2 linked regions of the Homo sapiens genome follow. The protein of the gene in region 1 purifies or fractionates together with the protein of each later gene. This does not show direct contact. Each region holds a gene or a part of one and is shown on either strand. Other genes may lie near its edges. The genes, in order: DCAF12L1 and DRG1.

Region 1 (3,914 bases):
CTTCCTCTATGTACCTGTCCCTGATTTCATGTTCACTATTACCACCAGCAGATGCAGCCTTTCTATTGCTATAGGATGAATGATATGGGGAGGAATCAAAAGTGAGGTGCAAGGGAGTGTTGGGGTACACTGGAAGGCAGCTGCTGGATTGGAGTGGTGAGAAGGACCTATGGCTTTTACTTGGAATTTGTGCACTTGAGGCGAAGTTGCAAAAAGGGATGGGGGAAGGGGACAGAAAACCAGAAAAATAAAGAGGGGGTTGGGGAGAAGCAGCAACAAAATAACTCTTATGGTTTTCCCTGATCAGGAAGTAAATTAATCACCGCAGGTGTCAGCACCCCACACCCTCAGGCCGGCCTGCCCACTCGCCTGCTCTTCCCACTGCCTCAGCCCCTCCCGCTTGGCTTTCCTCGTGGATCTGTCCACACACTGACTTTGTTCTCACTGCCCTCTCTCCCCAATGTATCACTGTGTAACTGAAATCACTGGGTAACTGAGTATGCCCCGTTTGCGCCTGCCACCTGACTGGCTGCTCTGAAGCAGCAGAACTGGATAAGAACTTTATGAACTCTGAGAAGTTATTCATGCACAGAACCTCTAAACTTGCATCATTGTATCCACGTTGTTGCCTTCTTCTGGAACGTTATGTTCTCTGCACGTGAAAATCCTCTGCCTCTAGACCCTGTCCCAAGGTCCCAGGGACTCTGCTTGGGCGCCTCTGGGACTGACAACAGGGATATTAACTTTGCTTCTCAGGAGTGGGGAAGAGGTCCCCCTCTCAGGATCCTTCCACTCCCTCTCCTTAGGGCTCTGAGGCTCAAAGGAAGCAAACACCTCCAAAAAGCCCCTCAGGATTCCTCCCCCATTAGTACAGCCTACCATTTTCTCAAGGCTGCACCAAACCAAGTGTTCGCTGATATCACCATGGGCCAAATGTGGGTCCCAGGGATTTGCATTTGGATTGTACTCCTCAAGGGACTGTGGCAGTAGCTCAGAGACCTCAATTTGAGGAGGGAAAAAATATTTGTTTGAAACTGTTTAAGACATCAACTGAGGGGCTGAAACTTGAGGGGTTGCAGGTCTGACATATGGGTAAAGGTCTCCCTGCGCTGCCGAATCCCCCATCCCTTGCCAAGTTTAATGTCTAATCTTAGCGAAGGGTGTCCCAGGATTACACCAAGTGCACACTGGTTTCTCCAGACAGATCGTGGCCTGGGCTCCTTCTAGCCCCGTGCTTGACTATATCGTAGGTTTCAGATTTTATTGAAGTAGGGATTTTAAGAAGGGTAGTTAGCTGTTGTCCTGAGGGTAGCGAAATGCCGCGTGTCTGATACTTGGGATCCTGGCTTGCGGGCCCTCCTAGACTCTGCCCTTGCAGCTCCGCTACCCCCTCCCCTCCCTGTCCCTCCCAGCCTTCACCCCGCCCGGCCTCAGCTACTCCTCAGGCACCCCACGCGCTCACAACCGCCTGCCCGACCGCCTGCTCCTCCCACTGCCTCCGCCCCTCCCACTCGGCCCCCCGCGTCGATCTCGCCGCACGCTGACTTTGCTCTCACTGCCCGGCCAGACGCACTTCCCGCCTTCGCCTAGGTCTGCACCGCCACCGCCGCCCTCTCCCGCGCGTCCCTCACCCGGTCCGCCACTGCCGCGCCTCAGAATCCGAAGGCTCGGTTCCAGCGCAGCCATCCACGCCGCCGCCACGACCGACTCCGGAGCCACGCGCTGCAACCGCCACCAACGCCTTGCCGCCGCCGCTCGCCCGCCGCCCACCATGGCCCAGCAGCAAACAGGTAGCAGGAAACGGAAAGCGCCCGCGGTCGAGGCGGACGCCGAGAGCTCGCCGTCGCAGGGCTTGGCGGCAGCGGACGGTGAGGGGCCGCTGCTACTCAAGAGGCAGAGGCGGCCGGCGACGTATCGCTCGATGGCGCACTATCTGAAGGTTCGGGAGGTAGGCGGGTGGGGCCCCGCCAGGCTCCAGGGCTTCGATGGCGAGCTGCGGGGCTACGCGGTACAGAGGCTGCCCGAGCTGCTGACGGAGCGCCAACTGGAGCTGGGCACGGTCAACAAGGTGTTCGCGTCACAGTGGCTGAACTCCAGGCAGGTGGTGTGCGGCACCAAGTGTAACACGCTTTTCGTGGTGGACGTGGAGTCAGGCCACATCGCGCGCATTCCCCTCTTGCGGGACAGTGAGGCCAGGCTGGCCCAGGACCAACAGGGCTGCGGCATCCATGCCATCGAGCTGAATCCCTCCAAGACGCTTCTGGCCACCGGCGGCGAAAACCCCAACAGCCTGGCCATCTACCAGCTGCCCTCCCTGGATCCCCTGTGCCTGGGCGACCGCCATGGCCACAAGGACTGGATCTTCGCCGTCGCCTGGCTGAGTGACACCGTAGCCGTGAGCGGCTCCCGCGACGGCACTGTGGCGCTGTGGCGGATGGACCCGGACAAGTTCGATGACACTGTTGCCTGGCATAGCGAGGTGGGTCTCCCCGTATATGCCCACATCCGTCCGAGGGATGTGGAGGCCATCCCCAGGGCCATCATCAACCCCAGTAACCGCAAGGTGCGGGCCCTGGCCTGCGGCGGCAAGAACCAGGAACTGGGAGCGGTGTCCTTGGACGGCTACTTCCACCTGTGGAAAGCCGGGAGCGCACTATCCAGGCTGCTGTCCATCAGGCTGCCCTACTTCCGGGATAATGTGTGCCTGACCTACTGTGATGATATGTCTGTGTACGCCGTGGGCTCCCATTCCCACGTCTCTTTCCTGGATCTGCGCCAGGACCAGCAGAACATCCGGCCCCTGTGTTCTCGAGAGGGTGGCACAGGCGTGCGGTCGCTGAGCTTCTACCGCCACATCATCACTGTGGGCACCGGTCAGGGCTCCCTGCTCTTCTATGACGTCCGGGCCCAGAAATTCCTGGAGGAAAGAGCCTCCGCCACCCTGGAGTCCTCTTCGGGACCTGCAAGGAGGAAGCTCAGGCTTGCCTGTGGCAGAGGCTGGCTCAACCACAATGATTTCTGGGTGAATTACTTTGGTGGCATGGAAGTGTTTCCCAATGCGCTCTACACCCACTGCTACAACTGGCCTGAGATGAAGCTCTTTGTGGCTGGGGGGCCTCTCCCTGCAGGCCTCCATGGGAACTATGCAGGCCTCTGGAGCTAAGGATGACCGCCTTGTACTCCAGGTACACAGATTTACCTTTCAGTTCCGCCCGACTGCCCTTCATGCTGCATTTTTTTGCTTTTAACTCTGTGCGTCTTTTGTTTTCCAGGTGGAACCAGCCCAGCTTAATTTGTACTCCTCCAAGCAGAGAGAGTGAGTGGTCCTTTGGTCAATGAAAACTTGGCTTTAAGACTTTTTGACTCCTTTCCAACACCATCTTTTGGAATTTTCATACAAAGAAATTTGGTTAATCGTTAATCTTTAGTTGCATTCTCTCTTTGAGTGATTCATACATTCTGTTTCTTTAAGAAGATGCAGTCATGGTCTTTCAGTTATGTATATTTGTTTTCCTTGTTTTTCCTCGTTACCAATATTACAACAGCATTGTTTTCAGTTATTTTTCATTGCAGATACGAAGAGAAAATTTTCTAGTAAGCAAGGTGTTCCTACATCTTTTCTGGAGAGCTTACCATAGTTTTATAGCATTGTTCAATTGGAAAAGTACATTCCAAGTTCTAGATTACCTACGTTTGGAAACACTTAATTTACAAATTGTGATCTTAGTGTATATAGTTTTTACGTTGTTGGTGCTAAAGTGCTTTTTTGAAGTTTATTCTCTTTCAAAATAAGTTATCATAGAATCTTGTGCTTGTATCAAACTCCTAATTGGTCGGAACACTTTAGGAGTGCAGGGGTTCTGCTTCATTGCATTTTCAGAATTAACCTGAAAGTTGAAACAACCATTTTTTTT
Region 2 (3,814 bases), on another chromosome or scaffold:
TTCTAGTTACACCAAACCCAAAGGCCAGTTACCAGATTACACATCCCCAGTGGTGCTTCCTTACTCCAGGACCACAGTGGAGGATTTCTGCATGAAGATTCACAAAAATCTTATCAAAGAATTTAAATAGTAAGTATCATGGGCCTGTGGTCCCTCCTTTTTCCTATGAGTTACCAATTTTACTAACTAGTAATTCTTAGGATAGCATTTTAAAAAAGAAGGCAGGAAGGAGGCTACTGAAATGTTTGCTTGGCTAGAACTCTGCAGTGTCTTCTTAAAACCGTGCCTAATTAGAATAGGAAGAGCTCTAGAAACCTCTTTAGGTCAGGAAGCCTGATGACACAAACAACCCTGACCTTCCCTCATTATTTCATCTTCCTCTTGGCAAACACAAATATTAATAATTCCTGCCAATGTCACACTGGCCTCTACTGGGTACTGAGCCCCCTTCTAAACCTTAAACATGGGCAAAACCTCCCTAATCTCTTACATTTTTCACTGCTGACACAGGCTGAAAAAAAATTATTTTATTTTTGCGACGGTCTTGCTGTTGCCTTGGCTGGAGGGAGTGGTGAGATCATAGCTCACTGGAGCCTCAATCTTCTGGGCTCAAGCAGTCCTCATGCCTCAGCCTCCTGAGTAGCTGGGACTACAGGTGCACACCATTATACCCGGCTAATTTTTAATTTTTCATTTTTTGAGACAGTCTCGCTTTTGTTGCCCAGGCTGGAGTGCAATGGCGTGATCTTGGCTCACTGCAACTTATGCTTCCCGGGTTCAAGTGATTCTCCTGCCTCAACCTCCTGAGTAGCTGGGATTACAGGCATGTGCCACCCACCATGCCCAGCTAATTTTGTATTTTTAGTAGAAACGGGGTTCCTCCATGTTGGTTAGGCTGGTCTTGAACTCTTGACCTCAGCCCCCCAAAGTGCTGGGATTACAGGCATGAGCCACCGTGCCTGGCCTTAAAAAATGTTTATTAGAGACGAGGTCTTGCTTTGTTTCCCAGGCTGGTCTTGAATTCCTGAGCTCGAGCAATTCACCTGCTTCAGCCTCCCAAAGTGTTAGGATTATAGGTGTGAGCCACTATGCCCAGCATATTAATTTTTTATTTTGAACTTATTTTAGACCAATAGCAAAGTTGCAAATACAGCACAAAGTTTCTTTTTTTTTTTTGAGACGGAGTCTCGCTGTGTCGCCCAGGCTGGAGTGCAGTGGCGCAATCTTGGCTCACTGCAAGCTCTGCCTCCAGGGTTCATGCCATTCTCCTGCCTCAGCCTCCCGAGTAGCTGGGACTACAGGTGCCCGCCACCACGCCCGGCTAATTTTTTTGTATTTTTCAGTAGAGATGGGGTTTCACCGTGTTAGCCAGGATGGTCTTGATCTCCTGACCTTGTGATCTGCCCGCCTCGGCCTCCCAAAGTGCCGGGATTACAGGCGTGAGCCACTGCGCCCAGCCCAAAGTTTCCTTTTATCTCTCACCCCACTTCTAATGTTAACAGCTCACATTACTATAAAATTATCAAAAACAGGAAATAAGCATTGGTATGATGTTGTTAACTATAGATCTTATTTGAAATTTATTACTTTTTCTTTTACTAGTGTCTGTTTTGTGTTCCAGGAACCTGTGTGGCATTTAGTTGTTGCTTGTTTGTAGTCTTGTGTTCTAGTCTACCAGTAATATTTCCTTAGACTTTCACTGTCATTGATGATCTTGACACTTTTGAAGAGTGTTCACTAGTTATTTGATTGAATATTCCTTAGTTTGAGTTTGTCCAGTGTTCTCTCATGATTGAAATGAGATTATGCATTTTTGGTAAGAATACCACAAAAATAATGATATGTTCTTCTCAATGTATCATTACATGAGATTCATGATGTTGATATACCTCACCGATGATAATATTCACATTGATTACTTGGTTAAGTTGGTGTAGGGTGGGTTTCTCTGCCGTGAAGGTAGTATTTTTCTCTCCGTATTTTATAAGTATCTCGGGGTACTTTTGAGACTGTGAAAGTCCTTTTTCTCTTCAAATTTTTGCCTGCTATTAGCATCTACTGGTGAGGCTTGTTTGTGACATTTATGGCTATGGTGTTTACCTAGCCATAGGCTGGAGTGTAGTGGCACGATATCAGCTCACTGCAACCTCTGGCTCCTGGGTTCAAGCAATTCTTCTGCCTCAGCCTCCTGAGTAGCTGGTACTACAGGCGTGTGCCACCGTGCCCGGCTAATTTTTGTATTTTTAGTAGAAATTTTTGTATTTTTAGTAGTCAGGCTGGTCTCAAACTCCTGACCTCAGGTGATCTGCCTGCCTCGGCCTCCCAAAGTGCTGGGATTACACACAGGCATGAGCTACCACGCCTGGCCTAATGGTGATTCTTTATTTTCCTTTTTTATTTTACATTTATTTATTGGACTTCTGTGTGTTAGAGCTACCACTTCTTTATTTAACTCATAATTCCTATCAGTATGAGCTCTTGGTTATTTTATTCTATAGGATGTAATCTAATACTATTATTATTTTGTTGCTCAAATTACTACAAAGCTTTGGCCATTAGGAACTCTTTCATGTTGGCCCCTGTGTTCTTTTGATAAGCTCCTTTTTTTTTTTTGAGACACGGTCTCACTGTTGTCCAAGCCGGAGTGCAGTGGCACGATCACAGCTCACTGTAGCCTTGATCTCATGGGCTCAAGCCTCAGCCTGCCTCAGCCTCCTGAGTAGTTGGAACTCCAAGTGTGCGCCACCATGCCCAGCTAGTTTTTTCTATTTTTTTTGTAGAGACAAGGTCCGACTTGTGTTGCCCAGACTGGTCTCCAATGCCTGGGCTCTAGTGATCCGCCTACCTTCACCTCCCAAAGTGCTGGGATTACAGGCATGAGCCATTTATTTATTGTAGAGATGGGGTCTTGCAATGTTGCCCAGGCTTCTCAAACTCCTGGGTTCAAGTGATCCTTCCATCTCTGCCTCCCAAAGTGCAGGATTACAGGCATCAGCCACCCTTTCCTTACTTTTTGATAGTGTTAATACTTAGATGTTCCCAAATGACATTGATTTTGCCTGCACTAGCCCTGAAAATTAGTCACTTCTCCAAGGAGCCCCAGTTTTCAAGATGTGGGTGCTAAGCATGCTCATTGTTAGCAAGTAGGTTATCATTGCCTGTAGGCCCTCTCAGCAAATAAAGTTAGGAAATACATGTATGGATACTAATGATGCTTATATACACAACTGTATTTCTGTATCTGTCTTATCCTTCCTCACTATCCATCATTTATCCATCTTTCCTAAAAACCATGAGTTTATACTGTTATCTCTGATTCTAGTTCAATACTACAGGGTTAATTTTTTTTTTTTTTTCTTTTTTTGAGATGGAGTCTCGCTCTGTCGCCCAGGCTAGAGTGCAGTGGCGCCATCTCCGCTCACTGCAAGCTCTGCTTCCCGGGTTCACGCCATTCTCCTGCCTCAGCCTCCTGAGTAGCTGGGACTACAGGCACCCGCCACCACACTCGTCTAATTTTTTATATTTTTAGTAGAGATGGGGTCTCACCGTGTTAGCCAGGATGGTCTTGATCTCCTGACCTCGTGATCCGCCCGCCTCGGCCTCTCAAAGTGCTGGGATTACAGGCGTGAGCCATCATGCCCGGCCACTACAGGGTTCATTTTAGCCTTCCCACTTAGTATTATTTTTGAGACAGGTTCTCTGTCTCCCAGGCTGGAGTGCGGTGGCTCTGTCACAGCTCACTGCAGTCTCGACTTCCCAGGCTCAAGCGATCCTCCTACCTCAGTTTCTGAATAGCTGAGACCATAAGTGTATG

The links.
Region 2: the proteins of DCAF12L1 (region 1) and DRG1 purify together in Homo sapiens (co-immunoprecipitation; one large-scale study listed by IntAct). This does not show direct contact.

The regions. Positions count from the first base shown.
Region 1 is NC_000023.11:126,550,466-126,554,379, reverse strand, and holds the start of DCAF12L1 (DDB1- and CUL4-associated factor 12-like protein 1), read left to right. Parts: upstream 1-1,565; 5' UTR 1,566-1,771; coding exon 1,772-3,163; 3' UTR 3,164-3,185; intron 3,186-3,272; 3' UTR 3,273-3,914.
Region 2 is NC_000022.11:31,427,054-31,430,867, forward strand, and holds part of DRG1 (developmentally-regulated GTP-binding protein 1), read left to right. Parts: intron 1-6; coding exon 7-129; intron 130-3,814. UniProt on the Homo sapiens protein: Catalyzes the conversion of GTP to GDP through hydrolysis of the gamma-phosphate bond in GTP. Appears to have an intrinsic GTPase activity that is stimulated by ZC3H15/DFRP1 binding likely by increasing the affinity for the potassium ions.